Linked DNA regions of Homo sapiens: region 1 is linked to region 2. Evidence: fine-mapped expression QTL. Tissue or cell type: prefrontal cortex. Region 2 holds a variant in brackets; the other region holds the start of a gene. All regions are shown on one strand. Distances are between the middles of the regions.

Region 1 (2,689 bases), 250 kb after region 2:
TAGTATTTTTTGAAATTTTAGTTTTAATTATATCCTATGGCCTGTGTTGTAAGATTTTTTATTTTAAGAGTTTAAAAGCCATTCGATTAAGCAACTAGTAGTAAACTTTTCTGTCTCTCATTAGTTGTTAAATCTAGAAAAGTTATTGGTTTAACAAACCTTTATTGGATATCTATTTTGCATCAGATTTTTTTCTACATGAATGACATTTTTTTCTCTCTCTTTTCTAATACTGATTTGTTGCAGTGTCGAATAGGTACCTGGGTCAACTCCACACACTTCTCACTCTTCACTGGACCTCTGGTACAAGATTGAGAGGATTCCTATTACTTACAAACAGACTAGGTATTAAAACAAAAAGATTCCCGAATAGAGTGAACCTAACCTAGAGCCCCTAAGAATTACATCAGCTTTAACCATTAATTCCCTGGGTTCTTCTTATTCAGTAATGTCTTAAAACCTTTTTATCAGTATGGGATGGGCGGGCAAGGGGATAAAGAAACTGGCGGCTGGTGGGAAGCCTTAGGTAAGGCTGTCAGGGGGGCTTTAGTTTGGGAGTGGGATAATTTGCTGAGGAAGGGTGGGAGAAACGTGAACTAGCACACAAAAGGCTGTTTCCGGCTCAAATTTCGTTACCAAGGCTCTTTGAGATGAACTTTTTTGGGGGAAAACAATCAGTCTAAAAGAGCTGTGTCTTCTTGTGTGTGTGTGTGTGTGTGTGTGTGTGTGTGTGTGTGTACAAGGGGGCGGCGAGGGTCCCCACTTTTAGTATGAGTAGCATTGTTCACATGTTTGCCAGTATTTTGGAGCCTGGCAGGCCTGGGTAGAGGCTGCGGGGGACGCCTCCAAGTTCCCACCCGGGACATCCTGAACAGCAGCAGCCACAACAACAGGCTCGCCCCTAGACAAAGGGGCCGGCGCGGCGGAGCAGACTGGTGCAGCCTGGGCCGCGCGCTCAGAGCGCTGGGCGTCTGGGCAGCTGAGTGGGCAGAGCTGACCCGGTGCGGGTGGGAGTCAGGGCGCCCGGAAAACCCGGCTCTGGGTAGCAGACCCCGCCCGGGCTGGCTCGGCGCCGGGCCTTCGGGCTTCCACTCAGTCTTTGACCCTCGGTCCTCGCTCAGCGGCCCGGCAGGCCGCACAACTGTAACCGCTGCCCCGGCCGCCGCCCGCTCCTTCTCGGTCCGGCGGGCACAGAGCGCAGCGCGGCGGGGCCGGCGGCATGGCTGTGTCCTGGAGGAGCTGGCTCGCCAACGAAGGGGTTAAACACCTCTGCCTGGTAGGATGGCGGGCTAGGCTCTCCTTGCGTTCTCTCTGTCCTGCAGTGATTTTGATTCATTCTCTGAGCGTGCACGGGTGGGAAGCTGGAAGTGGAAGTTTTGTCTTAATTCGAACATTCTCAACTTACAAAACTTTATGCTGGAGATAACAATGAACACTCCCCCTCCCACCCCCTCGCCTGTCCCCCAAATGCATGAGAATTTTTCTGCACATTGATGGGAGAGATGTGGAGGAAGAGGGAAGAGGTCATTTTCCGTGAATACAGCTTTTCTTTTTACCCTTTAAACATTTTTGCTCCCTTTGTTCTTTTCCCAGATTACTTCTGTTTGCTTGGGGTATGGTGATGTCATTAATTTCTTAATCTCATTTTGTACGGCAGGGGATAGCTGTAAATCATTTAGGAAACCTATTTGCAACCCAAATGCTTAGTCTCAGGTGAAAGGGCTGGGTAAAGTCAGATTTGTTTTCCTCTGAGTGGTTTTCAGCTTGCTGGTTAATTGAAAATGCTTTCTGCAGTTACTGATTTAGGTTCCATTGAAAGCACTGTGTCGAAGAATTTACCTGTGGTTTCTATTCATCAGGTAATAATTATTTTCAATTTTTGTTTTCTGTCTCTCATGTCTGATTGGTTTAGTTCATCTGGCTCTCCATGAATGTCCTGCTTTTCTGGAAAACCTTCTTGCTGTATAACCAAGGGCCAGAGTATCACTACCTCCACCAGATGTTGGGGGTAAGTAAGGTGAACTTGGATAATCTGGTGGAATGGGTTTAACACTGGCAGACATTGCTACAGGTTTGGTCAGTTCCATTCATTAAAGAAATGTGCACTCTTCACTTTGAAAACCTTTGTTGTTCTCTAAAGTGGTCACATTTTCCTGATTTATCATTTACACTTGTACAAGTTAAAAAGATTGACTCTCTCAAGAACCAAAGGTAATATCTGCTGAAGTGAAACGAATGAACCTGCCAGACCAGGTTATTGGTGCCTTAAAAAAATTGCTACTTATTGCCAGCTGCTAAGTACCCTGAAGGATCTGATTCACTAGGAGGATCAACCAATAACAAGCTTTTAGTATATACTTATCAGTGCTTTTAGCCTGCTCATGAGCTTATCCAGAGGATTTCTGCACTGTTTGTTTTTACTGACAACTCTCACAAAATATGGGTCTAATGGGGTTATTCATTTCTGGGCAGTTCTCAGTGCTTGCTTTGGGTTAGTGGCTGATGATATTCCAGTATTCTACTATAATATGAGAAAGATACTGGGCAAAACTTTTTTCTGATTTATTTTATGTTAATATTTTTCTTTCTTTTCTATGATGTTTCTGATTTCATTCTTCTGTTCCATCTCCTTCTTATTTGACTGCTTAACAGAAGATAGTGTCACTGAAGGCATATTACTTTGCACAAG
Region 2 (2,689 bases):
GGAAACAGCATACCCAAACATTCAAAGTGAAGAAGGCCATGATGCTTGTGGAGAATCTACTTCTACATTTCTTTGTTCCAGTCTTCTGTTACACACAGCTCATGGAAACTGCTAAACACACTGAGATCCAGTTTAGAGGCATTTCTTGTTTACACATTTTTAAAAATTTCACCTTAAAATTCTGAAAATATAGAGAGGTACAGTGTGCTTTCAGACTATTTCCAAACTTCTAAAGAAAAACAGAGAAAAACTAGGTTAACAAAATTAAAATTCATGAACAATATTTACAACAACACAGGGTAACAATGTGCCCTACAAAAAATCCCCAGTGTAAATAGTGACAGACAAATCAGGAAGACCTGCAATATCCATGAGGAATCAGAATCCTTTCAAGATGAAGCAGAGGGTGAACACAATATATTATGGATTTGAGAACCCCCAAGTCAGCAACAAGGATTTATTAGAAAGTGGGCAAGGCAATTAAAAAACAGCTACGGAAACTAAGTAGGGTGGGAGTTTGCACACATCAATAAGCAAGAGTCCAGGATGAGATAAAAAAGAGGCTGGGACCATATGGCTTCTACAACTCTTAAAATAACCAGACCAAATTCTCTTCCAGGATCAAGTTCCGTATTGAGAAGAATTTACTGTAAGTAAACTACATATTAAACAAGGCTGACACAATAGGGCCAAAAAAAGAGAAGGCCTCTAAAAAGTAAGTGGGGACAGAAGCAGAACCAGGACAGAGCAAAAAGTGAAAGGTCTTATTATTGAATATCTTATAAAATCAACAGGAGAGCTCTAGATTCAGGATGCTAGGAAAGCTATCTTGACCGATCTTTACCTTATAAAAGTTCAAGTTTAATTCCATACAAATGGCATCAATACGGCATGCTTTTGTTGTTGTTTGTTTCTTATTTAAGGAGAGTGCAGAGGGAAGAAAGTGCCTTTCCCAAAATAGTATACCTTGATATGACTGTTCATGAAGTAACGTCTAGTGTTTTTAAAAGAACCTTAGTGCCAGGGCTACAGTGAGCTTATATTCTGCAGCTGCAACCTTGAGAGAAGTGCTTCTGGGCAGTCCTCTTTGTTTCCTTCCCAGCAGAACCTCAGCCCCACCTCACTGGATCCAGCTCCATCACTGTGCCTGGCCACCTCAAGTTATTCCTGAAGGTCAATTTCTGGAGTATGTCCTAATCCTCTCCTCCTCCAAGCACCCCTCTTGGTCCCTGCAATATCCCTCCCGAACCCCCACCTAAAAGCCTTTCTGCCTGCCCTTGTCCCATAATACCTCACCCAAGAATGTATTATAAGCCAGCGTGGTGGCTCACACCTACAATCCCAGCACTTTGGGTGGCCTAGGCAGACGGATTGCCTGAGGCAAGAAGTTCGAGACCAGCCTGGCCAACAAG[A/G]TGAAACCCCCTCTCTACTAAAAATACAAAAATCAGCAGGGTGTGTTGACACATGCCTGTACTCTCAGCTAGTCAGGAGGCGGAGGCATGAGAATAGCTTGAACGTGGGAGGCAGAATTTGCAGTGATAGAGATAGCGGCACTGAACTTCAGCCTGAGCAACAGAGTGATGACACAGTGAGAAAAAAAATGAGAAATAGGAAGAGGCAGAGGTAGGTATCTATCTACATATCGATATATCTATGTATTTAGTTATGTATAATATATATGCATATTATACATGTACATGAATATATGCATTATATGTTGCTTAATATGTAGTTTACTTCCATTATTATATATATAGTACATTATACATGCATATATGAGAGAGAGATCTCAAATTGATAGAATCCCTAATAACAAGCAGCTACCACCCCCATTTTTCACAATGGCTAATTACTTTACTGCGTGATTTACTCTCAGATATGGTACTGAGGACCACGAGGTATATCCAGCAAATTATCTGCAAATTCAAGTGCAAGTTTTTGGCTTTAGAAAATGTTTCAAATCAGTCAGTTACACTTGGGAAATGAGGTTAGGAATATGCACCCAAAGGGTTGATCTTAACTATTCATTATCACTAGTGGGAAAATTCTGGAGATTAAGGGATGTTTGGGGTGGCTGTCTTGCTCTGAGAGGGGTATGGGTGGGGAATGGATTTATCCTCTTTTCCTTTTGTGTTAATAATGGTGGGAGATTTTGGTTACTGTGAATAGTACCTACATGAGCTGGATAAATCATGAGCACTAAAGGTTTTGGGAGGGTAAAGAGAGGGGCTGCAGGGACTGCAGGGAGGAGGGACCGGGGCTTTTTCAGAAAGTTTGCAGAGAGAAAGCAGTCAGCTTCTCTGTCCATCATCCACAGCTCCAGGATTAAAGAAAACTCTGCTTTCTCCCTGCACATTCTCTTTGTATCTGCAAGAGAAAGTAGATGGGTTAAAATTAGTGAACTGAAATTAGTATTTTCCAGAAAGACAATTGAATCACTACCAAGATATGTAAAGGCAACTGGGGCCTTGTGAGGCCACCCAAACCAGCCTCCATCCAGGGTAATGAAAGGGGATCCAGTTGTCCCCAAAGCTGGAGATTTCAGGTAATTAGGAAAGAGCCAAGGAGGCAGTGGAGGGGTCAGGTTAAAATAAAACGCCTTGTGTAATATCTGCATTAATGGGCCAGGCTAGGAAAGAAAAACTGGTAAATATAAGTTGATAGAAGAAAAATAGGAGAGAAAGTTTTA

The links. PIP is the estimated chance that this variant, and not a neighbour inherited with it, causes the effect.
Region 1: it holds the start of NOX4, and the variant in region 2 is fine-mapped to the expression of NOX4 in prefrontal cortex (CommonMind, PIP 0.95).

What each region holds. Positions count from the first base shown.
Region 1 is chr11:89,489,777-89,492,465 of GRCh38, reverse strand. It overlaps NOX4 (NADPH oxidase 4), which reads left to right and starts at 1,091. Exons shown (of 18, transcript NM_016931.5): 1 at 1,091-1,276; 2 at 1,913-2,008. The coding sequence starts at 1,220. RefSeq lists enhancers at 133-839, 840-1,546.
Region 2 is chr11:89,740,427-89,743,115 of GRCh38, reverse strand. No RefSeq gene overlaps it. Among named protein-coding and RNA genes, the nearest start is that of TRIM77, 31 kb to the right of the region's middle. The variant A/G (reference allele first, on the strand shown) is at 1,413.